Linked DNA regions of Homo sapiens. The protein of the gene in region 1 interacts with the protein of each later gene in a biochemical or structural test. Each region holds a gene or a part of one and is shown on either strand. Other genes may lie near its edges. The genes, in order: SMARCA2, MYB, RAP1A, PITX1, KHDRBS1, MECP2 and SDCBP.

Region 1 (3,500 bases):
AAATGTCCTCCTGTGGTCCCAGCAGAGTGTCCCTGGCTCCCTGGTCAGTCCGCCTTTTCACTGAGGGGACCTCACCCATATTACCGAAAAGGCTGTTTTTAATAATCTGTGATCTGTGTGCCAAATCTGCCTTCACATTGGCTTTTTATTCTTGGAGTGGTTGGATTAGATTTTGGTTTGGGCTTTTTTCATTTATAATAATTCTAGAATGTCACATACTGTGAAATACTAAGTGTGGATGAGCGGCAAAGCTGCTTTAAAACTCACCTGTCAAGAAGCAAGAAGAGAGAAAGCTTACTCATGGAGAGAATGATCAGGCTCATATTTTACATTCTTTTTGCATTGGTGCTTCCCCCATTTTCCTACTGTGGGAAACCCAACATACAGCAGTGAGGAGTTAAGAAGTCACACCCTCACTTGGGTTGTATTAGGATTAATTACCTGTGCAGATCTTGGATAATTGAAGCAATTACTCTTCATTTCAGCTCCAGGGCCTGGAATGGATGGTTTCCCTGTATAATAACAACTTGAACGGAATCTTAGCCGATGAAATGGGGCTTGGAAAGACCATACAGACCATTGCACTCATCACTTATCTGATGGAGCACAAAAGACTCAATGGCCCCTATCTCATCATTGTTCCCCTTTCGTAAGTAAAGTCATTTATTCCACAGTCATCGTTCTGTATGTTGTAGAGTGCCCGATTAGTAGCTTGTCCTTGTTTTTTACTTAAGACAGAATTGTAGCATGTACTAACCTAAATCCAGATTACCAAGAGCATGTAATCTGGATTTAGGTTTTAATTTCCCACCCCTCCCCATCCTAGCCTGTTTGATTGGCTATTTAAGCACGGGACCGAGTGATTTTATCGGCCATCAGCATTACAGGTCTGCACAGCCTGAACACTGCATAGTGAGTCTTGCTCATCATTATTCCTTAAGTGGCTCACAAAGGGGAAAGGTGTGTGTGTGTGTGTGTGTGTGTGTGTGTGTGTGTGTGTGTGTGATTTCTTTGATTTTTTCCTTATTCCATTTCCAAAAGATGATATATTCTTAAATCTTCCTTTTAAAAGCAGAACATAAATCAAAATCATAACTAGGAGTTTTGCATTAAAATAACCTTAGTATGTGCACTGAGGTTATGTTTCAATGAGTTTGCTGCTTAGTAAGGACAGGAGTTTGCTGTTCGCCATTACGTTCCCAGTGCCTCACCTGCTAGGTGGTTCTTAGAAGGTCCTAAGTGGGCACTACCGAGTGAGGGCACAGTGATTCACAAGCACCCTCCTGGGAGTTCAGTGTGTCTGCCTGTGGGTGTTAGGTTGCAGTTTTGTTCACCAAGGTCTTGTTATAGATCTCAATGCTGATATGAACTTGGACCTTCAGTAAGAAGAAGGATTCTATTAATATTATTGTGTTTTCTTTGAATTTTTTCTAATGAAGACTATTTGCAGCCCTTTTTGTATGAATTATCTGTATCTGTAATATTTAGGCATCTTTTGCATTTGATCTATATTTTGCGTGTTCTGAATCATATATACAGTGACACTTTCAGGGCTTTAAAAAACGTCATTCAATATTTCTTCCCCTGTTCCCTCTTGACAGATTTATTTTATGTTTTCATGTGGTTTTATAATTTCTTTTTCCTGACTCATCTTTTTTCTGAACCTATATGGCTGTTTATGAAGATTCCTAAAATCATTCTGGCAATTGCTCTTTTTTAATATCATATTACAGTTTAGTTTTTTGCTCTCTATATTTATGTATTCTTTAGTTTTTTTCTTACAAGATTTTTTTATGAACCACAAACTTGTCATGTTTTGTGACAGTTTGTTTTGAACTTATCTCCTATTTCCACACCTTTAAAATAAATATCTTGTTGAGATATGTTATATTCTGTAGCCCCTTTCAAGGTGAGGCCTGAACATGAATAAGAACATCTTTTTAACCATTGATTTTTATACAAATGTCTTTTTTCTGTTGTTTTTTTTTTTTGTTCCATAGGACTCTATCTAACTGGACATATGAATTTGACAAATGGGCTCCTTCTGTGGTGAAGATTTCTTACAAGGTTTGGAATGCTGTATTTATATATAAATGTGGAAAAGCAAAAAATAGACCCTATTTTCTTCATTCCATATGCACATCTGTGAACTGTATTTGGTTGTAAAGTTTTGTCATGTACATCATGTACTAAACCGTGAGAGTTAATCATCCCAAGAAGATTACTGTAATAAACCATAATTACTTTCAGATAGTGAAATCCAGAAGAAAATTGTTAATTATCATATTGCAAGGTTTCTGATGAGAGTAATACAAATGACAAATATCACACATTCTGCGTGCTGCTGACTGGCTCGCTGTGGGCTGCTACTGTGCTGACTGTTCCTGCAAAGTCAGGCAATTACCCGGATGCCCGGGGCTGCCTGCTGTACTTTCTCAACAGAACTGGAGCCTTTCAGCAGAGCGGTGGGTTCTCTACTACCACAAATTCACTGTCATTTCCATTTCCCTTTGCCCTCCCACTGTCTTTGGTGGGAAAACCTTTCTAAAAAAAGATCTGAAAAGGGTCAAGACGTGTAATTTAGCCAAAACTTCCTCGTGTATAATAGATCAGTCTATGAGAATGTGTGTCTGTGCATTCTTCAGTCACATGTCTGGGCATCATTAAGCTATGAAAAGTGAGAAATAATGCACATATATGTCCATAGGATCATGCATGTATTTTTTTCTTTCCATTCAGGGTACTCCTGCCATGCGTCGCTCCCTTGTCCCCCAGCTACGGAGTGGCAAATTCAATGTCCTCTTGACTACTTATGAGTATATTATAAAAGACAAGCACATTCTTGCAAAGGTATGTTTTTAAAAAATTATTTTCTCTCTAATTAGGACCATTGCACTGGAATGTGAAGTATTGCCCAAGTCAGTAGTGTAATTGGATCCTTAGATGGCTTGTCCTTTTCTTTATTTTTCTAAAATTTTTTCAGAGTTTGATATGTTTTGGTCGTGGATTTGATTTCATGCATGCTGTGTGTGTGTGTGTGTGTGTGTGTGTGTGTGTGTGTGTGTGTGTGTTTATGATTGATCCTGGGGCGGCTCTTGTCTATCCCCTCAGAGTTGATGAGTTTACATCTCTTAAAAAAATTCACCTGGTTGCTTCTGCAACTCTTTTTCTCTCTAACAGCTTTGCACATTCTCGGGAAAGAAATAATTGTTTTTGTTGCCCTGAGATATTGTCAGTGTACCTTCATTCTTCTTGTGCCTTTGTTTCTCCAAAGATGAGCCAGACACCTCTCCATATGGTCTCCACCATATGAACATTTATCCAAGCCGTGGCTTTTGTGGTAGTCTTGTTTCAGGTTTTTCCTGGTGAAATAATAGACTATCATTGTTGGAGTTACTTAAGGTTGTTTCTGTGACTATTTATTTGAAACTGAGAAAGAGGTGTTTCTGTGACTTACATGTCTCCTAATTTTTATGTCCTAAGTTGTTCCTTAGCCACAA
Region 2 (3,500 bases), on another chromosome or scaffold:
GGCCTGCAGTTAAAAAAAAGAAAGTTTTTAAAGAAATGGGATCTCGCTATGTTCACCAGGCTGAACTTGAACTCCTGTGCTTAAGCAATCCTCTTGCCTTAGCTTCCCCAGTAGCTAGGACTACAGGCCCATGCCACTATGCCCAGCTAAGAAACCTACTTGTAACTTTGTTTGATTCAGTGTTTCCCAAATGTATATACCTATATCATACCTAAATCTGTTCTTAAAACAAATTCAACAGATACAATTGGAAAAATGTTTTAAAGTGCCAAATTATCTATTAATTTAATTATTTAAATAATTTAGGAACACAAATCTCTGATAAGAATTGTGATTTTCATGCCTTAAAAAAGCTGTATGAAATAAAAATATTCCTTGGCAAAAACTGCACTAGTAAAATAGTATGGCACAACTCAAAAGAGCCAATGTTGAGAAACTGAAATTAAAAATATGTTCTTTTCCTTAAGCATTTGTTTCTCATCCTCTTCCCAAACTCTTCCATTTAAAGATGAATTGGAACCTTTAAATTTTCTAGCTTTAAATTTTCTAGTTGCAACCCAAATGTTATATAAACACAATTTGGTTCCCTCCTCCCCTGGGTCAGTGAATCGCATAAGAATAAATGAACAACGAGGAAGAAATGATGTTAACAATTTTAAAGGGAGGGATCAGATGGGAGAAAAAGAAAGGGACAGAAATGTTAAACTCTAGTGTTGAAGGAAATAAAAGTACGTTTCATGCAACTATCTTTCAAAACCACCCAAAAGTAAAAGAGAGAGAATGATGCCAAAATCAACAGTTAGCCTGCAGACAGCCTAAACTTTGGGAGGCAGTATAACTTAGCAACAGCTAGATTCAACGACAGAATGAAATCAGCAAAGGCAGCAGTAATTAGTCATTTGTTCCGAAGTATTAGTTTCTAGATTATTAAGGCTCAGGTGTCTGTTGAAAATGAGTAACAGCTGTGCAGAAATTGTGTTCTACCTGCGAGGGAGAGAAGGGTAGGCTTTTGACAGGGGAACGCTTGGGAGTTGAACTGCTGACGTCAGCAAATATGAAGGAGCTACAGTCTCCAGTGGCTAAGGGGCTGGCCTGGCCCCGTTTTTTTCGAAGGATGACCAGTGGAATTGTGCTGTGCCTTGCAGGAGGTAAGACCTTGGGTGGGTCAAGTGAACTCTCACTCAACATACGTTTGTTCACCCTTGGGCTAGGTTCTCCTGCAGGTTTAGTCCCATTGCCCTCTCTTTGCTGAAGCTGTAGGGCTTTGCCTGTGTGATGTTGGCTAGGTGAAAAATCTGCTTCTTCAAAGAATTCAAAACTGCTGAGATCACACCATGATGAAGAATCCTGAAACAATGTGGGAGGCACAGAACTTTGAGATAGTGTGTGCCATCATCACCTGAAACAGCACTGAGAGAGAGATGCTCAACGCAAAGCAAACACTAGGCCCGTTGGTTTGGCTTCTTGAGCAACAGCTTCAAGATGAGCAGTTGCTCTATTATACTGCAGTAGAGCAGGGTCTAGTGGGCTGCCTCAAGGCTGGCCCTCTGATGTGCTGCAGGGACCTCCCGACACTCTACATCTGCATGCAATGGAAAGCAAAATGAAGACCTTTTCTAGATGGCATATTACGGCAATGGTCATCTCCTAACCAATGAGTGTGCAATAAATGATTTTTAATCAACTGGGAAAGGAACCAAGTGTTCGCTGAGGAGGTGCTGAATACAAATTTGTTTCACGAAAGATGATTCATCTCAGTGAAGCAATGGGACCAGTAATCAATAATCACCATTTTGTGGAAAGAGCCAGGTATGACCAAGGAGCTGATTATTACTTCAAATACACTAAAAGATTGCTTTCAGCTCTGAGTAAGCCAAATCATTAATGTGCTGTTCAAAAGCAAGACAAAATTCTAGAGAAGCACCATGAAGTAAGCAAAGAAAAAAAAAAGTTAAAAGTAACTCAAACACCATTCCGTTCCCATAATCCAAGCTCTGCTTTATAAGTCATCAATCTGACTATTTTTAAAAATATGACTTTTGAAGGAAAAGTGTGAAAATGTGAAAAAAAACTCTTCCTTCAAAAGTCCTATTTTGTAAGTATTTATAAATACTTTTGTCTCTCTCGGTAGGCTATGAAATCAGATCTTTGAAAAAACATATTCATGAAGATGAAAATCATACTTCTACCTTTACATTAATATATGCTAATAACAGCTTGGCTATAGAAAATGGCAATGATTTAAGAAATGGGTTTTCTAATTTATCTTCCAGAATCGTTAACTTCCCTTCACAATTCTACTTACAGAATCTATAAATTGGAGTGTTTCTGCAAATTCTAAGAGGTTCTTAACATTATCCAGAATGGTGCCCTGGTGGACGATCATGCACCTTGCTGGCGAGGCGCTTTCTTCAGGTAGGGAGCCAGGATCCGCTGGCAGAGATGGAGTGGAGTGGTGTTCTCCCAAACAGGAAACAGGTGCACTGTCTCCATGAGGTCTGGTGTGGTCGGCAATGGTGGTGCTGTGCCACCCGGGGTAGCTGCATGTGTGGTTCTGTGTCTAAGGAAGGGGGAAGGGTGTAGAAATAAAGAGAGGACAGAAGAAAGGGAGAAGGAACTTAGCAATGAAGTTGCACAAGGTATCAGATGCTGTTGGAGGAAAGATAAGAGTAGTTGCATCATCCCAAACTTACGCCTATGAAACAGTTGTCAAGATGTTTCCTTTTATCAATGCAAGACCCTGTTTTTAATAGTGCTAGAGGTTGTACCTATATGATTACCTTGTTATCATTTTGTAAAAATGTCAAATCATAGGTCTATATTTCGAAGTATAATTATCATATTGTCTTAAAATTCCACTTTAATATAATTTGCCAAAGGTCCATAAATGCTTGCTGTGAGTGAAGAACTGAAGAACTGTCCTATTTGCATTCTAACCACAAAAAAGCTAGAGGACTCAGGAGTTAGAGTTGCTTTGATCTACACATATTCTTGTTGCTTCTATCCCTTTCTAATGCTACAGATTGCACTGATGCAGTGAAGCACTGCCAAATCAACGTGGTTAGGAAAGCAGAAGAGCAAATTAACAGAAGTCTCCTTACAGTATGACCACACAACAGGAGAAATTGCAAAACATTAACTAAAGTTAAAAAGTGGTCGAACTAGCATGTGCACATAAACATCTTATTATTTAACAAAAAATAAATTTACCCCTAGGAATACCTACTGGGCATCACTTCTCTTTTATTGTCTTTGTTGGTTAACTATGTATGTTGCAAAGCACAAGGAGCCATCCCAGTTGGCTGCCCAGTCGCTAAAGATGTCAGAATTCAGTAATGGCCCACATAACTTTCACACATGCAAATAAAAGAGAGCAGCTAATGTTATTTATGAAGAGGTTTTATATATAACCTTTTACATGTATATACTGAACATGCATCAAATCATGTCTGAAATTATAAAATATGAAAATATAGGTTAACAAAATAATAGAAAAAAAC
Region 3 (3,500 bases), on another chromosome or scaffold:
ATTCAAGAAATTTATATATTTATAATTGCATATTTTTTAAATCATAGGAGCAATTTACAGCAATGAGGGATTTGTATATGAAGAACGGCCAAGGTTTTGCACTAGTATATTCTATTACAGCTCAGTCCACGTTTAACGACTTACAGGACCTGAGGGAACAGATTTTACGGGTTAAGGACACGGAAGATGTAAGTATTTTTTCTCTCTGTAAGATGTTATGCCATCTCTCTGTGGCCAAATAAAAAAGTGCCTGTTTTCTCTATTAGTAGAGGATTTGGAAGCTATCTACCACATGCCTGAAAGAGCCCCTGTGACCAAAAGAAAAAAATTTAACTTTCAAAATTAACCTCAAAATTATGTGGTGAGATGTTTAGAAAATGAGGACATATGTGATAAAGTACTCATTGTGCTATAGGTTAAAAAGTGCAGTAGAGGAAAAAGAGGAGCCAAAGAATACTTCATAGAAGTGGGACCTGAGTTGAGCTTTGAAAGGTGATGGTTGTGTCAGAAACAGTGTTCAAAGAACATTATTAAGATCCATAGTGGTGTGTTTTTATTTCTAAAATTCCATTGGTATAATTCACACATCACAGTCTACCTCCCGGGCTCAAGTGATCTTCCCACCTCAACCCCCTGAGTAGTTGGGACTACAGGTGTGTGCCACCCTGCCTGGCTGATTGTTTTTGAATTTTTTAGTAGAGACCAGGTCTCACTATGTTACCCAGGCTTGTCTCAGGCTCCTGAGCTCAAGCAGTCCTCCTACCTCAGCCTCCCTGGGATTACAGGCATGAACCATTGTGCCTGGCCAGGATTATATTCTTAAAATAATTTGGCATATCTATGTAGTAGGATCTCTTCCATTTTTTTTTTTTTTTTGTCTCTTCCTTCTTCCTTCGCCTCTTCCCCTCAACATATACTTTTCGTTAGTATTTGATGAAGCTTGCGGTCCCAACTAATGCATTTCAGTTGGTGGCAGATAATTGCTTATTTATTTTTTTAAAAGGCTAAGTAATGAGTATGTTATTGTTCATTTTACGTTTTTTTCTTCCCACAGGTTCCAATGATTTTGGTTGGCAATAAATGTGACCTGGAAGATGAGCGAGTAGTTGGCAAAGAGCAGGGCCAGAATTTAGCAAGACAGTGGTGTAACTGTGCCTTTTTAGAATCTTCTGCAAAGTCAAAGATCAATGTTAATGAGGTAACCTACAACTGCTGGGCAGCACAAACAAGTGCCTTTTTAGTTTGCTTTAAGTTAACAGCCAGACTTTTAAGAAAAAATTTTTATCTTTTAAGCAATCTTGATTCCATAATTTTATAGGAAACACTAAGTAATTCCTGGAAACTATATTTTTTAGCTTGCATAAGGTCACTTTGATGGCTGTATGAGGATACTTAAATTTACCTTATTGTAAAAGAGGAAGCTAAAATTGAAGAATGTGTGTAAAATCCTGCTAAGCCTCTAAGTGATATGCGATAAAGTGGTGTGTAAAAATTGTTACATCACCTTATATTGTAATAATTATTTACCCAAATGTATATAAATAGGTTGTAAAGTCAAGTTGGAAAATAATATGTTTTTATGGATATCACAGAATTGTGTTCTGAGTCTTACCTCACCTTTGGTGCATGACTCATAAGTGGGTAATCTGTGTGGGTATGGACATGTACCTGGAATTCACTCAGTCCTTTAGGCCTGATACAGCTGATGCACAAGGCTTTTGTGTGGGGCATGGGGGTGGGGTCACTGGGTTAAGCACTCCACTATCTTGAAAACAGCTGTGGACAAGAATACTTAGCAAATAAGCTGCATGCCTGGGTGTAAAGGGCCAACAGTTTACTAGTTTACTGGGCCCCTAAAAATTTAGAGCAATTTCCAACTGTCCCCACCAGTCAACCTTAAATAGTTCCCTTGCTTTTGTTAACCTTAACATAAGCCTTTTAAAAAAATAAAAACAACAGAGTGGGCTTCTTTCCTGCCGTTGCTTTTGCCATTTGTAGCATTACAGGTAATCAGTCAGAATTCAGATCACTTAACTACATAGGTGAGAGTGAGAGTGGGTTAAGTTATGAGTCCTCTGTTTTTGCTATTCTCTCTGGCCTGTGGTTCTGCTGGCCACTTTTTCTTGACTAATATTATGCTTATAGACTATTTGACTTTTAAAAATGACCAGGTTACTTTAAACACCTGGCAGGTAAAAAAAAATTAAGCTTGCTTCAACTTCTGTATTTTACAGATAATCAAGAATGCCAAAGCTTGTTTTTTTATGTGAAACCATTTTTAACAAGTACATAAAAACAAGAAATTTATAAATTGTATTTATTCAGCAAATATTTATTGACTATTGTGTGTCTGGCACTGTGTCAGGCCCTCAGGTAACAGTCACTCAGACAGACACTATTCCTGCCCTGAAGAAGTTTGCATCCTACTGGGGGAACAAGTCTTTCAGCAATAATTAAAGAAAAAAAGTGATTTTGATAAAGAATTTGTTAGAAATTGTGAATATGTTTGGCTAGCAGAACAGTGACATGAGGTCACTATCTACAAGATAATTGGCCTTACGGGATGTGGTTCCTTGCTGTCCTTGTCCTTACCTCCATGGGACCCACCAACCAAGTTCATCAGACTCCAGGCTCCGGTGGGGCTGGGTTGGGCCTGAGTCCAGTGCATAGGACTTCTCCCTTTGGGAGCCAGAGGACAGTACACTACATGTTTGTGAGAACCTACATGCTATTAAACTTCCTCTGGATTAGTTTCCAATGCAGCAGAGATACTTTTTCATAGCAGTCTTGTTAAAGCAGAGAGTTTATAAACGAGGGTTTATAAAAACAAACATAGAAAAACCATAAAATGAAATGCATTAGCCATCTCAAGAATCTTTACTTTTTGGAAAACATACAAACTTTATGCTCAGTTCTTGAGAGTGGGGAGAATGGAGCAGATAATTTGAGTTTCTTTTAATATTTTTCTCTTTATAACCCAATAATCCAGCTACAGGATTTCTTTGGTAGTTAATAGTTCCTCACACAACTTTTGCCTTGTAAATTTTTTTGTGAGTTTTGAATGCCTGAAGTATAGAGAGATACTTTCAAAAATTCACCTCTTGGCCTTAAATTTGAAAACAGACACCAGGACATACTGCTTGGCTAAAGAGCCCCCTAATTCATTCATATATATATATATATAATTTTTCAAAAACTCTTATTCACACCACTTTGCAACGTTCTTAAAGTAGTATATGGCTATGCCAGAATCACAGTAGTCTTAATCAAGAATTAATTGTTCTTTGCTGAGGCTGGAATAGTAATTGGAATCAAGACAACCCAATTTAGGAATGGGAGAGGGATTGAGAAACTCTATTCTGTGTTCCCTTTAGATTTTTCTATAGTTCAGAGAGATGAGGAAGAACCTAGGCTGGGGCCTTTCAGCATTTCTAACCAAATATTATAGTTCGAACTTGCCCTCATCACTGAACCATCTGCTGCTGTGAGGTAGGCAATGT
Region 4 (3,995 bases), on another chromosome or scaffold:
ATCCAGCCCCCTCAGTCCTCCTGGAATAGCCTGGCCCTGGCTCCGAGGAGAGAAGAGGGGCTGTTGCTGGGCCCACAGAAGAAAAGGCAACCCCAGGCATAAAGAGGCTCTCAGCAGCCCCTGCCCGAACGCTCCTGGCAGGCAAGGGCCCCATAGCACCCTGGGGCCTCGAGGGTCACCGCAGACCCGGCCTGGGAAGAAACCCGTAGAGTCCCGCAGCCGCGGAGGGAGGGGGTTCTCGCTAAGGCGTCCCGCGGACAACGCCGAGAGGCACAGCTTAGCGGGTGCGCACCGGACAGGCTCGCAACGCAGGACGGTGCCCTCATGGGAGCCAGGCTGAGCAGGTCAAGAATGGTGGTGGGGAAGCGGGGTAGGCAGACCTCGGCGGGGGCTGCCTCGGCGCTCTGCTCCTACCCAAGGGGCCCGGTTCCCTTTCTACCCACAGTTCCCTTTCTATCCGCCTCCCTCCTCAGCCCAATGAAGCAGTCGGGGCTCAGCAGTGCTTAGCACGCTCGGACTATGGTTTTAATAGACGTACATGGACAAGTCGATATAGACAGATTTATTACAGTCAGTCCAACATACACAGGGACGCTGTAAACAGGGGCGCGGGCCGGAGAGCGGGTGTGCAAAGTGGGCGCAGGGCCCTGGGGCCGCGCCCCTTGCTCTGCCGGCTCGACTCTTGCACGGCGGGCGGTGAGGAGGGGGCTGTTCGCCCAGACAGAGGGCCACCTCCTAGCCCGGGAGCAGAGCAGAGGGCCTGGGCCTGCAGCTAAGCTCAAGGCTGGGGTGTTCTGAGATGGACCTCCCCCACCTCCCGCCAGGCCCGCACTGCCCGCTGTCGCTCCGTGGCCTTAATATAGGGCTCCGGGGCGCGGGGCCAGCGAGGCTCTACCAGGCGCGCCGGGGCCGTGTGCGGCTCCACTGAGTGCCCGATCCTGGGCTGGGGGCACCGTCCCCCCAAACCCAACGCCCGCCCCAACACGGATCCGACTCGAGCTAAGGCGCTCTCGGCCGGGCCTAGCTCGGAGAGGGCAACTTGGTTTGTACGGGGTCGGGAAATCCTAGGCAAGTCCAGGCCCCGCACATCCAGTCCGCAGGCCCGGCCACTCAGTCCGGATCCAGCGCGGCGGGGACGCGGGATACGAGGTCGTCCTCCCCCGGCCGCTGGGCCTCGGCGCTCGCCTACCGCGCCGCGTGCCCTCCGCGGAGTGGGCCTCCGGGGCCCGTGGGAACACACACACCACCCGCGCCATCCCGAGAGAAATTGCAACTCATCCATTTTTTCGCGGCACTTTTCTCCGACGTCTTTTTGCTTTTTTTTTTTTTTTTTTTTTTTTGTCTTTTTGGAGGGCAGAGTGGGGTCCGGAAAAGCAAACACAAAACCAACCCGGAGTGGGAAGTGGGAGGAGGGGGCTGCGCAGGTGTGAGGTCCGCGGCGCGGTGAGCTGGGGCTTGCGAGCCGGGGCCCCGCGTGCGTCCTCCGCGCCCGCGCCCGCGCCCTTCCCCGCTCCGGCCGCCGGCCCGCGTGGTGCGGCGGGGCGGTCAGCTGTTGTACTGGCACGCGTTGAGGCCCGAGGCCGGGCCCTGCAGGCCGCCGTAGCCAAACGACGAGTGCTGTTTGGACTTGAGCCGCAGGCTGGCTAGGCTCGAGTTGCACGTGTCCCGGTAGACGCTGTAGGGCGAGGCGGGAGTGCCGTACGGGCAAGCGCCCGGCGACATGGCCGAGTTGAGCGAGGAGCCGGTGAGGTTGTTGATGTTGTTGAGGCCCGAGTTGGGCATGCCAGGCACGGCGCCTGGGCCCATGCTGGACGGCATGGTCATGGAGGAGATGGAGCTGGGTGCTGAGAACATGGACTGCGACGACAGCGGGCTCATGGAGTTGAAGAAGGTGAAGCTCTTGGTGGAGAGCGGCGCTGGCGCCAGGCTCTTGGCGGCCCAGTTGTTGTAGGAGTAGCCGGCGGCGTACACGTCCTCGTAGGGCTGCACTAGGCCGCTGAACTGCGGCACGTAGCCACCCTTGCACAGGTCCAGCTGCTGGTTACGCTCGCGCTTACGCCACTTGGCTCGCCGGTTCTTGAACCAGACCTGGGGGAGGGGACGGGAGAAGGGTCAGGGCCGCTGCGGGCCGGGAGGGACCCCACCCCCTTCCCCACCGCCTGGAGCCTTCCGTCGGCCCGCTGCCCTCCGAACGTCGTTTCTCTCCTTCGACCGATATTTCCGCTCCTGCATTCCCTCCACAATGGTTCCTTTCCTGTCCCCAGAAAATACTAATTTCTTTTTCCGATCTTTATCCTCTCCCGAAATTATATCCGTTTTCTTCTCCGAATACGGATTCTCGTTTAACAGATATTCGTTTTCTTTCTTCCTCTCTCAACCAGTTCACCTCTGCCTTCTCCCCCAAACAGGTTCGCTCTATCTACTAAATATTTCAGTCTTTTTATTCTCCCTCAAATACAAAAGGTATTTTTCCTCCCTGAGACATAGGACTTTCCGACTCCCCCAATTCTTCGATCTATTTCATCGCTCAAATAGTTTGTTATCATCTTTATCGGCAATATTTGATGTTTTCTTTTTGGCTCCAAATGTTTATTTTCGTTCAGTCCACCCCACTGTCTGAACCTCTTTCTTCTCCCTCAGTCTGTTTTCTTGTTTATCCCCCATTTTTGATCCTTTTGAATCGTCCTCAAATATTAGGCTTTTGAATCCTTTCCAAATATCTGACCTGCACTGTTCCCCTTAAACAGTTGATTCTTTTTCTCAAATACCTGATCTTTTTGCTTCCTATTTAATTTCTTTCCTGCCGCCTAAATATATGCCAAATATGTTTCTCCACAAATATTTAAATTTTTTCTATTCTTACTAGATTCTTCTAATCTTCCTGCCCTTCCTTTTCTCCCCCCAAATTTGGTAAGAACCTCCTAGTCCTCCCCCATCCTTACCTATCTGCCTACCGCATGCCCTCTGCCCACTCGGATTTTCCTCCAGTTCTGAGTGGAGTTTCCTGAGCTAGTTTGCCAGATCCCTGCTTCTCAGCTTTCCCTAGTCCCCAGCACTGACACTACCTGATTCCACCCCCACCCACCCCTACCACCATAAACCTGGGCAGGATTAGTGAGTTCAGGATTACTGAGTGCTGTGTCTTCATTCCAAGTCCCACTGGGCTGGCCAGCCTGCCTAGGGAGGGGTGAGGGCTGGGGTTATGGTAAGGAGTCTGTGGGCCAGCTGGGATTTTGGTCGACTTGGGAGGTGCTCCCAATATCTGATTAAATATTTACGCCCCCAGGGAAGAAATGATTCTCTTGCTACCCTGGCAGGAAAGCCTTGCTTTTACTGGAAACCAAACGGGTGAGAAGAGGGAGAATGCAGGCTGGTCTTGGGTCTGAGATGGCATATCCTAAAAGGGACTGGGAAGGACATTTGGCTCCCGGAGCCACCCCCCACCTCACCTGACGGGAGACCTTCCGGAAAGGGCAGAAGGCAAAGGGTCCTACTGATGGCTGGGGAGGGTGGAGAATATCTTGAGCTTTTAGAGAATCTGCTTATGAGATGGGACCACTGCTCCAGGAAGTTTTGAGAGCCCCAAACCCAGGCACCTTTCAGGCTTCTCCGAGGCAGCCAGACAGGACCTGCCTTTCCCTTTCGTTTTCGGGATAAGGCCAACAGCTCCCGAGGTCCCCAGCGGCAGGGAATCCACTGCCCAGTCTCTGGCCCAGGGTATCCTGCTAACATCTGAGTGGGTCCTGGGCCCCATAGGGCATGGGGGAGTCCCCTGGGGGCACAGGTCTTTGGGCTGGGGTTGCCTTAGTCCGAGGATCAGGTAGGATGAGGGTCAAAGGGGTTGAAGGTCCGAGGCGCCTGGAGGCCTGGCAGACGCTAGTGGGCCAGGGCCTAAGGTGGGGATCTCCGGTGGAGGGAGGGAGCAGGTCTGAATGGTGGGAGAGTGAAGTTCTGCTTGTGGGTCTAAGCTTTGGAGGGCTGCAGCAGAGGCGGCC
Region 5 (3,500 bases), on another chromosome or scaffold:
CTGTACCTGACTACACCACTTTCTAAGTTCTCAGACTGGAAAACTTAGTTATTCAATCCTCAAAGTCCTAGAAGAACAAAGATGCCATAATTCTGATCTGAGAACATCACCAAGGAGCTTTTAATAATGTGGAACAGGCCAGGAGAGGTGGCTCATGCCTGTAATCCCAGCACGTTGGGAGGCCAAGGTGGGCAAATCACCTGAGGTCAGGAGTTCGAGACCAGCCTGGCCAACGTGGTGAAACTCCATCTCTACTAAAAAAATATATACATAGACCGGGCGCGTTGGCTCACGCCTGTAATCCCAGCAGTTTGGGAGGCTGAGGTGGGCGGATCACCTGAGGTCAAAAATTCGAGACCAGCTTGGTCAACATGGGGAAACCCCGTCTCTACTAAAAATATAAAAATTAGCCAGGCGTGGTGGTGTGCACCTGTAATCCCAGCTACCGAGGAGGCTGAGGGAGGAGAATCGCTGGAACCCGGGAGGCAGAGGCTGCAGTGAGCTCAGATTGCGCCACTGCACTCCAGCTTGGGCGATAGGGCAAGACTCCATCACAACAACAAAAAAGAATGTGGAACAAATTAGATACTTCATTTTATCTATGTCGCTTTGTGCTTCCGAGGGCTACCATTGAGTTAGACCTTTCAGCTGTATTTTATACCACTTTCCAGAAACCTTGGTCAGTGCAAGACGATTCAAAGTCTGTTCATCTGCTATACTCCTACAAGAAGGTGTGTTTATATGCAATGTAATGCACTCTGTGAATTTAAGGCCTTTCATTTTTTCATTTCTTAAAGACCAGTGTGATAGTATAAGACCTTTCTATAACATGGATTCTTCTATTTTTGAACTACTCAGATCTTAGAATCCTTCTGTCCAATTATTTCACAACTTTTTAAAGAATAGCAGTGGCCAGGCATGGTGGCTCACACTTGTAATCTCAGCATTTGGGGAAGCTGAGGCAGAAGGATCACTGGAGCCCAGGAGTTTGGGACCAGAGCGGGCAACATAGTGAGACCCCTTCTCTATAAAAAATAACAAATTAGTCAGGCATGGTGGTATGCGCCTGTGGTCCCAGCTATTTGGGAGGCTGAGGCAGGAGGATAAGCAGTTGGAGGCTGTAGTGAGCCAAGATCATGCCACTGCATTCCAGCCTGGGTGACAGAGTAAGGCCCTGTCTCAAAAAAGCAAAGGAAAGCATTTTTAGAGAATTCAGAGAAGGATCATTTAAATAAAACAGAGGGTTGAAAAGAGAATCAGAATTTTAACCTACAAAGCAAAGGACTGGTTGGGCACAGTGGCACATGCGCTTGTAATCCCAGTGCTTTGGGAGGCTGAAGCAGGATGACTGCTTTGAGCCCAGGAGCTTGAGACCAGCTTGGGCAACACAGCGAGACCCTGTCTCTACCAAAAATAAATAAATAAATAAATAAATAAATATATATATATATTTAAATTAGCTGGGTGTAGTGGTACCTGCCTATTATCCTACCTACTCAGGAGGCTGTGGTGGGAAGATCGCTTGAGCCCAAGAGTTCAAGGCTGCAGTGAACTATGATGACTGTGCAACTGCACTCCAGCTTGGGTATCGAAGGGAGAGAGGAGGGGAGAGGGGAGAAAGGGAGGAAGGAAGGAGGGAAGGGAGGGAGGGAAGAAGGGAGGGGGCAGGAAGGGAGGCAGGGAGGGGATGAAGGGAGAGGGAGAGGGAAGAAAAGGAAGCAAGCAGAAGACTAAGAAGCTACTCGAGCTTTCAAGAAGGGTGGAGGGGGCCAGGCGCTGTGGCTCATGCCTGTAATTCCAGCACTTTGGGAGGCTGAGGCGGGTGGATCACCTGAGGTCAGGAGTTCGAGACCAGCCTGACCAATACAGTGAAACCCCATCTCTATTAAAAGTACAAAAATGAGCTGGGCATGGTGGCGTGTGCCTGTAGTCCCAACTGTTTGGGAGGCTGAGACAGAAGAATTGCTTGAACCCGGGAGGCGGAGGTCACAGTGAGCTGAGATCGTGCCACTGCACTCTAGCCTGGGTGACAGAGCGAGACTCTGTCTCAAAAAAAAAAAAAAAAAAAAAAAAAAGGAGGAGCCGAATTTTTTTTTTTTTTTTGAGATAGGGTCTCACTCTGTCACCCAGGCTGGAATGAGTGGCACAATAATGGCTCACTGTAGCCTCAACCTCCTGGGTTCAGGCGATCCTCCCACCTCAGCACCCCCAGTAGGTGCAACCATAGGCGCGTGCCACCATGCCTGGCTAATTTTTTTTATTTGTAGAGATGGGGTCTCCCTATTTTGCCCAGGTTGGTCTTGAACTCCTGGGCTCAAATGATCCTTCCACTTCGGCCTCCCAAAGTGCTGGGATTATAGGCGTGACCTACTATGCTCCCCCCGCCTTTTTTTTTGTTTGTTTTAAAGAGATGGGTTCTCTACTGCCTAGGCTGAAGCATAGTGACACCATCATAGTTCACTGCAGCCTCGAACTCCTGAGCTCAAGTGATCCTCCCACCTCAGCCTCCCCAGTAGCTAGGACTAAAGGTGCGTGCCACCTTACCCAGGTAGGGCTGAATATTTATTTGATGCCTACTATATATCAAATACCATAGAACTATTACCTCATTAATCCTCAAAAATAACTCAGTGAACTGAGTTACTTACATCTGAGGCAACAAAAACTCAAAGAGGTTAAATAACTATCTCTAGGTCATAAAATTGTTAAAGTAACAGAACAAGAATTAAAAACCCACGCCTGGCTGGGCACAGGGGCTCACATCTATAATCCCAGAACTTTGGGAGGCCGAGGTGGGAGGATTGCTTGAGCCCAGGAACTTGAGACCTGCCTGGGCAACAGAGTGAGATCCCATCTTTACTAAAATTAAAAAAAAAAAAAATAAATTAAATTAGCTCAGTGTGGTGGCGTACAACTGTTGTCCCAGTTACTAGAGAGGCTGAGGCAGGACGATCACTTGAGCCCAGGAGTTGGAGGCTGTGGTGAGCCATAATGGGCGCCACTGCATTCCAGCTTGGGTGACAGAACAAGACCCTGTCTCTAAAAAAAAATTAATAAAAAATTTTAGAAAACCCCCAAACTCAGGCCTTTAGGCCTTTTCTGACTTTTTTTTTTTGAAACGAAGTCTCACTCTGTCGCCCAGGCTGGAGTGCAGTGGCACAATCTCAGCTCACTGCAACCTCTGCCTCCCAGGTTCAAGCAATTCTCCCTACCTCAGCCTCCTGAGTAGCTGGGATTACAAGCATCTGCCACCACGCCCAGCTAAATTTTGTATTTTTAGTAGAAAAAAGGTTTCACCATGTTGGCCAGGCTGGTCTTCAACTCCTGATCTCAGGTGATCCACCCACCTTGGCCTCCCAAAGTGCTGGAATTACAGGCGTGAGCCACCGCGCCAGGCCTCTAACTTCTAATTTCATGCTTTTCCTATTGTCTCTTGATGAGTGTGTGTTTGTGGGGGGCACACTTTATTTAAGCAAGGAAGAGCTGACTTTTATAAAATT
Region 6 (3,500 bases), on another chromosome or scaffold:
ATTTGTCGTTTTTTTTTCTTTTTTTTCTTTTTTTATTTTCCCTTGTCCTATGCTATGGTTATCAGAAATATTGTAATTAAGCAACAGGTATAATTTTAACAGGTCTTTTTTTGTGTGTGTGGAGCCACAAGCAAAATGAGTTTATAATTGTGCAATATACAGATATATATATAAAAATTCAACTGCTTTGTGTGTCTAGTCGGTGCGTTAAATAAAAGGGACAGAAAAACTAAAAGCAAAACTAAAAAGCAAAACAAAAGCCCAGGATAGAGGAGACAAAGCAGGCCTATGCGCACAGTCTATGTGTTACTGGATATAATCAGGGTCACCAGGAAGAACAGCTTTGCCACTTGACACACAAACACTGCGGGGAGAGGGGCTATCAGTGGGCAGGAGCCAAACCTCTTGGCCTTTTCACCTCATCTGCTCTCACTGCTGAGCAGGACCTGATTAAAGGTAGGACAGAATGGGGGTTTGGGGGCAAAGAGATTTCCAAATTCCCCAAATGTTCTTGAATTCAAAGGTAGGATTTCCTCCAGGGTCTGGGCTCTGCCTGTGCACAAGTCGGAGCCCGGAGCGGGAGCTGGGGGTTGTGCTCCCTCCTTGCACTGCCCTCACACCTGCTTCCTTCTGCCTCCTGACAGGGCAGGCAGGGGGCCTTGGGGAGGCAGTGAGAGGCCAGCTCAGAAGGCTCAGCTGATCCGAGGCGAGCAGAGCAGGAGTGGGCAAGGCAGGCTGCCCCTCAGGCAGAAGTGCCTTCCTAGTTCCCTGGGTGTTTTCCTGACACGTCAGCGCTGGGGCAGGCTCTGTCAAGATGAGAAGAGTGGGAAGGAGGGTGGTGCTGGGCCTTCCAGGTCACTGGTGAACGCTCCACCTTCCATACCACTCCCAAAAGACAGGTTCAGAAGCCATGTCCTCAGGTCGGCTACCTCCAGATTCCCCTTGCCTGTAATGCTCACCAGGCATCTCAGGCCAAGTGCTAAGTATTTTTAGATCAGCACTGTTGTAAAAGCTTGCTCGTATTCATTCAAAAACATCGAAATGTAATTTTCTGCCAAATGTTTTCTAGGTTTTCCTTCTAAATTGTTGAGAACTGACTTCAGTGTTCAGCTTTTCCCCTCTAATATGTAATTTTAGACCCTGGGGGAGGCAGTATCCTAACGATTTATAACAAGTAGACTATGCCTTTTCTAAAGATTGATACAATATCTAAAAGAGAAAGACACCAAAATGGAGAGAATCAACAAATCCCGTCAGAGCAGAGAGAAGAGTAGGAAGACCCGGAGGGAGCAGGGCTCTGCCCCCCCACCGGGCAGGTCCTCCAGACCCACTCCATGGTAGGAACTCTAGAAACAGCTGACTCCCTGAAGTCTAGGACACAGGTCCTAGAATCTGCAGGTGTGAACTTGAAACAGGAATCCATTTGGGGCAATGACACAGGCTAAAAATGTATATGCCCAAAGATCTTCTTAAAGAACTGGTACCTGTAACCTCCCCTGGCCCAGTCAGCCCAGAGAGCCTGACTGGAATGCTCTGGAAAAGGAGCTGTGGTTAGACGGGGGACACAGAGTTCTGGCTGTCAGGCTCCACTTGGGCTAAACCAATTCCAGATGGTCCCGCGCAGGGGACTCCGCTCGTATCCCTCTGCTCCCTCCTGGGCTTGAGCCGCTTACTAAGTGATTTAAAATTCAGAGATTCTGTCAGCTAAAGAAACTCCTTTCTCCACCCAACTTGGCAGTTTGTGTCTGGTTATTACCCTCTTTCGCCATCACTGTCACAGCAATGAAAAGCTGGGCAGAGAAGCAGGTGACAATTTGGGGCTGCTCCCTGTCCCAGGTGCACTGTTCATGCTTCGGGCCTGGAATGATGCCACCCAACAGAAGATTGTCTGCACCCGCACTGGCGCTCACGAGTAGCAGCTTCCGCCATCCAGCGAGCTGAGAAGCTGGGGCCGTTGGCTAGTTTGGCACTGATGGATTGGGGGATGTGGCGTTTCTGGGTGTCCCCTGTGTCTTTTGATATGGGAATACAGCATCAACAGAAGGGAGCTGTGCTAGCGCCTGGCTGTGACCAAGTATCTCCAGCTCACTGAGCTGTCAAGACCGGCAATCCCACTGGCTATGACAAGCCCACCAGCAGGCAGGGCCGGGAGGGGTAGACCTGGGGGGAGCTCGACGACATACAGTATTGTCAGGAGAGGAGGTAGTAACTAACAACTGGAACAAGGGTGGGGGAGACTGTGGATGTGGCCTTAATGACCTAGCCCCATGGGTACTGGAAAGCTGTCGGTCAATTCTGCTGTTCACAAATTCACTGAAAGAGGCCCCCATCTTCATAATGTTCAAGTACAGACAAAATTGAAATTGAGGTCACACCCCAAAACTGGGCCGGACACAGCTGGTGAGAATCCTGCAGCTTAAGGCTTTCCCTCCAACCTCCTGTCAACCTGACCCCAAGGCAGGGGCAGCATGAGAGCTGCAGGGCCCCTGCCTGCCAGGGCGATAAACCGCCAAGGCTGCCTGCTGAAAGGCGACTGACTCGTGATGCCTTTGGGAAAGACGAGGGAATGAGGAAGAAAGGGGGAAATAGAGAGAAAACCCTAAGGAGCCTCAGGCCCCACTGGCAGCTCTGGAATAAACTGGAAGGGAAAGAGGCTGGGCAACTGCCTCTTTGAGGGAGCTGCAGGTGGGGCCCGAATGAAATAAAGTGACGCTTGAAATGCTGTGTTCCCAACCACGACTGCCCCATCGGCCCTGAATGAACTGTCATGGGTGACAGGGGGGCCTGGTGGGCCACGCACTCCTCTTACCAGGACCAGATGACGCCCAGGTGACGGGGAAGCAGCTCTGGACAATGATTCCAGAAGCCACATTACATTTGACTAAGTATAATACATAAAAACCCAACTGACCAAAATAAACATCTTCTCAGTGACAACCTGGTCGGATGCTGCGCTCTCGTGGATAAGTGTCCTTTGGTAGTGCCAGGAGTTCGAGGCCACTATGGGGGCAGGAGCCTTCTGTCCTTGGAGGAAGAGTTCTGGAGGACTCACCCTCTCTTCTGACCCCCCTTCCCTTCCTGGGGAAGAGTCAGAAGTGAAGCTGGGGGGGTCATCAGCAGAGCAGGTGGAAGGGATCAGGGATCAGGGATTGGGCTGATGGGAGTTTGGTTGCAGGACTTGCTTTTACAGCATAAGGAAATGGACACATATATGCTAGAAAGTCCAACTATGAGACTCTACAAACAGAACGGGGCAAACTCCCTCACTTCTAACCATTCCAGAAGAGACAAACACGGTTTTTTCTTAAGCTACTGATTGGAACTGTCAACTATGGTTCCTGATCACTAAAGACTGGCAAGGAAGTGCTAGACAGTTTCTATGATGTTTCACTCCTTCATGATTACACCATAGTAAGGAAGCCAGGGACAATAACTGAAATACACAAGACAACACACACTTGACAGTTCATGGCAGCAGCTCACATGGGACATGCCTGTGG
Region 7 (3,500 bases), on another chromosome or scaffold:
CACTCTGACACTCTAGCATTTATCAATGCTACTCATGCTCAAGTATCCTCTTCTCAGGGCTGTCTTGATGGCCTACATCATATGAAGTATCTCACTGATGGAAATACTTTATCCTTTACAATTAGATCTGACTTTCTGAAATAGCTATATGTCATTAGAGACAAGTTTGGTAATAAGTTGTATGACCAATCTCTACCAACTTTTTACTTTATTGGAAATGTATCATTTTAAAAATGAAGTTCATAGTAGTATCTCAACCTAGCCCTAAAATCAATGTCAAGAGTATTCCCAAAGATGCTTGGAGATATGAAAGCTTAGTTTAAATAAGTAAAGCCTATGAAAGCTTTGAATGGTACTAAAATTATATGTTCTGATATACTTGTTGAGTCATCCTTTAATATTTATTATTTCATAATTTGTTAAACATTCTAGATTTAAACAAAATACAGCATGAAAATCTTTATAATTATAAATAACAATCCACAAATTGAACATGTGTTGAACTTTGAAAGTTCTTTCACCACCGATTAGCTAAAAGGAGCTAGTGGCTTGTTATATTACTTCTTGAATCATGTCTAACAAAAAAAATACTGTGCGGCACTGGGAAAAAAAAAAGAACTATAAAGACATGAAAAGACATGGAGGAAACTTAAGTGGATATTACTAAGTGAAAGAAGCCAATCTCAAAAGGCTACATACTTTATGATTCCAACTATACGACATTTTGAAAAATGCAAAATTGTGGAGATAATAAAATATTAGGCCAGGCACAGTGGCTGAGGCCTTTAATCCCAGCACTTTGGGAAGCTGAAGCTGGAGAGTTGCTTGAGGCCTGGAGTTCAAGACCAGCCTGGGCAACATAGGAAAACCCTGCCTATGCAAAAAATTGTTTTGGCCAGGCACAGTGGCTCATGCCTGTAATCCCAGCACTTTGGTAGGCTGAGGTGGGCAGATCACCTGAAGTCAGGAGTTCAACTGACCAACATGGCATGTTGTCATGTTTGTCATGGCCAACATGGCAAAACCCTGTCTCTAGTAAACATACAAAAATTAGCCGGGCATGGTGGTGGATGCCTGTTAATTCCAGCTACCCGGGAGGCTGAGGCAGGGAGAATTGCTTGAACCCAGGAGGAGGAGGTTGCAGTGAGCCAAGATCGCACCACTGCACTCCAGCCTGGTGACAGAGCCAGACTCCGTTTTGGGGGAAAAAAAAATTTTCTTTTTAAACTAGCTAGGTGTGGTGGTGCATGCCTGTAGTCCCAGCTACTTAGAAGGCTGTGGCAGGAGGATGGACGCTGCAGTGAACCATGACTGTGCCACTGTACTCCAGCCTGGGCAACAGAGCGACATCCTGACGCTAAAGAAAACACAAAAGCAAAAGCAAATTATTGGTTGCCAGGAGTTTCTAGAAGGGAAGGAAGAACAGGCATTAAAGAATTTTTCGAGCAGTGAACCTATTCTGTCTAATGCTACAATGGTATACAGTCATGTGCTGCCTGTTCTGGTCAATGATGAACCACATATACAATAGTGGTCCCATGAGATTATAAAAGAGCTAAAAAATTCCTACTGTCTAGTGACATCATAGCTGCCGTCACACAGAACAACTCATTACTTTGTGGTGATGGTGGTGTAAATAAGCTTACTGCACTGCCAGTCATATATAAAAAAGTATAGCATCTACAATTATGCATGGTACATAATACTTGATAATAATAAATGACTATGTTACTCATTTATGTATTTCCTGTGTTATACCCTTTAGAGTATATCCTTCTACTTACAAAAAAAGTTAACTGTAAAACAGTCTCAGGCAGGTCCTTCAGGAGGTATTCCAGAAGGCACTATTACCATTGGAAATGACAACTCCATGCATGTTACTGCCTCTGAAGACCTTTCAGTGGGATGATGTGGAGGTGGAAGACAGTGATATTGATGATCCTGACCCTGTGCAGGCCTAGGCTAATGTGAGTGTGTGTCTCAGTTTTTAACAAACTTACAAGCGATTTTTAAAAACTAAAAATTTAAAAAATAGGAAAAAAGCTTATAGAATCAGGATATAAAGAAAGAAAATATTTTATACAGCTGTACAATGTTTGTGTTTTAAACTATGTTATTACAAGAGTCAGAAAGTTAAAAAATTAAAGTTACAGGAAGCTAAGGTTAATTTATAATTCGAGAAAGAAAAATTTTTAAATAAATTTAGTGCAGCCCAAGTATAGAGTATTGATAAAGTCTACAGCAGTATACAATAATGTCCTAGGCCTCACATTCACTCACCGCTCACTCACTGACTTACCCAGCGCAACTTCTAGTCCTGGAAGCTCCATTCATGGTAAGTGCCTTATACAGATGTACCATTTTAAATCTTTTACATTGTATTTTTACCATACCTTTTCTGTGTTTAGATACACAAATACTATTGTGTAACAATTGCCTACAGTATTCAGTACAGTAACATGCAGTATTACTGTATCATACAGGTGGGATCATACAGGTTTGTAGCATAGGAACAACAGACTATACCATACTGCCTAGATGTGTAGTAGGCTATGCCATCTACATTTGTGGAAGTACACTCTATAATGTTTGCACGACAAAACTGTCTAATGAGGCATTTCTCAGAACATATCCGTCTTTAAGCAACACATGACTATATACACGTCACTATACATTTGTCAAAATCCACAGAACATATAACACCAACAGTGAACCCTAATGTGATGTAATGTAAATATGTAGACTTCAGGTGATATTAATGAGCCAGATGTACTGCTCTGGTGCAGATGCTGATACTGGGGGAGGTTGTGCATGTGTGAGGACAGAAGGTATACTGTACTTTCTGATCAATTTTGTTGTGAATCTAAAATTGCTCTAAAACACAGCTTATTAATTTAAAATACTTCTCCTTTGTATGTAGTTATGAATTTCTGTTCTTTCATTGCTATTGTTTTTAATCCAAGGAATACTGAAGAATACATATAGAAAGCTCCCTGCAAAGTTAAATTTAATTATGTTATTTGCAGTAAAAATGAAACAAAAGGATGTAACCCAATTTTAAGTACTGTAAACCATTAAATGTAGCTACTTATTTCAAACTTACTTTGAAATGTGACACTACTAAAAAAAGGGGTTGGGGTGCCCCAAGGAGCATGCCAGGGCCTATTGTTTCTGCCATTAACAGAAAGGATGTGGAAAAAACATGCTTGTAGCGTCACTGCTGCCAAATTCTGCCCACCATATTAGGAAACTGATAAGCTCTGGTTCTGTATATCATTATTTATTAAAAGCTTACTTTGCATAAGTAGAGGAAACCACAGGCTCTTGTCAGGATTTGGAATGGAGAGAAAAAGGTCTAGGGACTGTATGATGCTAAAAGCCACAGCCTAGTGGCTACTGCAGAATAGTTTACAAAATATGAATGGTTGGTTCATTGCTGTAATTTAGCTTTGCTGTGGTGTTAAAGGCCAGCAGATGAGAAAATGAATACTACCTTCCTT

What was found.
Region 2: the proteins of SMARCA2 (region 1) and MYB form a complex in vitro, tested with the Homo sapiens proteins (one study listed by BioGRID).
Region 3: the proteins of SMARCA2 (region 1) and RAP1A form a complex in vitro, tested with the Homo sapiens proteins (one study listed by BioGRID).
Region 4: the proteins of SMARCA2 (region 1) and PITX1 form a complex in vitro, tested with the Homo sapiens proteins (one study listed by BioGRID).
Region 5: the proteins of SMARCA2 (region 1) and KHDRBS1 form a complex in vitro, tested with the Homo sapiens proteins (one study listed by BioGRID).
Region 6: the proteins of SMARCA2 (region 1) and MECP2 form a complex in vitro, tested with the Homo sapiens proteins (one study listed by BioGRID).
Region 7: the proteins of SMARCA2 (region 1) and SDCBP interact in a surface display test, tested with the Homo sapiens proteins (one study listed by IntAct).

The regions. Positions count from the first base shown.
Region 1 is NC_000009.12:2,081,347-2,084,846, forward strand, and holds part of SMARCA2 (SWI/SNF-related matrix-associated actin-dependent regulator of chromatin subfamily A member 2), read left to right. Parts: intron 1-485; coding exon 486-649; intron 650-2,000; coding exon 2,001-2,067; intron 2,068-2,739; coding exon 2,740-2,850; intron 2,851-3,500. UniProt on the Homo sapiens protein: ATPase involved in transcriptional activation and repression of select genes by chromatin remodeling (alteration of DNA-nucleosome topology).
Region 2 is NC_000006.12:135,194,808-135,198,307, reverse strand, and holds part of MYB (transcriptional activator Myb), read right to left. Parts: intron 3,349-3,500; exon of another isoform or gene 3,227-3,348; intron 2,561-3,226; coding exon 2,306-2,560; intron 1,583-2,305; exon of another isoform or gene 1,400-1,582; intron 1,348-1,399; coding exon 985-1,347; intron 1-984. UniProt on the Homo sapiens protein: Transcriptional activator; DNA-binding protein that specifically recognize the sequence 5'-YAAC[GT]G-3'. Plays an important role in the control of proliferation and differentiation of hematopoietic progenitor cells.
Region 3 is NC_000001.11:111,703,289-111,706,788, forward strand, and holds part of RAP1A (ras-related protein Rap-1A precursor), read left to right. Parts: intron 1-47; coding exon 48-188; intron 189-1,054; coding exon 1,055-1,198; intron 1,199-3,500. UniProt on the Homo sapiens protein: Counteracts the mitogenic function of Ras, at least partly because it can interact with Ras GAPs and RAF in a competitive manner. Together with ITGB1BP1, regulates KRIT1 localization to microtubules and membranes.
Region 4 is NC_000005.10:135,027,234-135,031,228, forward strand, and holds the end of PITX1 (pituitary homeobox 1), read right to left. Parts: intron 2,089-3,995; coding exon 1,546-2,088; 3' UTR 501-1,545; downstream 1-500. UniProt on the Homo sapiens protein: Sequence-specific transcription factor that binds gene promoters and activates their transcription. May play a role in the development of anterior structures, and in particular, the brain and facies and in specifying the identity or structure of hindlimb.
Region 5 is NC_000001.11:32,023,868-32,027,367, reverse strand, and holds part of KHDRBS1 (KH domain-containing, RNA-binding, signal transduction-associated protein 1), read right to left. Parts: intron 1-3,500. UniProt on the Homo sapiens protein: Recruited and tyrosine phosphorylated by several receptor systems, for example the T-cell, leptin and insulin receptors. Once phosphorylated, functions as an adapter protein in signal transduction cascades by binding to SH2 and SH3 domain-containing proteins.
Region 6 is NC_000023.11:154,024,718-154,028,217, forward strand, and holds part of MECP2 (methyl-CpG-binding protein 2), read right to left. Parts: 3' UTR 1-3,500. UniProt on the Homo sapiens protein: Chromosomal protein that binds to methylated DNA. It can bind specifically to a single methyl-CpG pair. It is not influenced by sequences flanking the methyl-CpGs.
Region 7 is NC_000008.11:58,566,761-58,570,260, reverse strand, and holds part of SDCBP (syntenin-1), read right to left. Parts: intron 1-3,500. UniProt on the Homo sapiens protein: Multifunctional adapter protein involved in diverse array of functions including trafficking of transmembrane proteins, neuro and immunomodulation, exosome biogenesis, and tumorigenesis.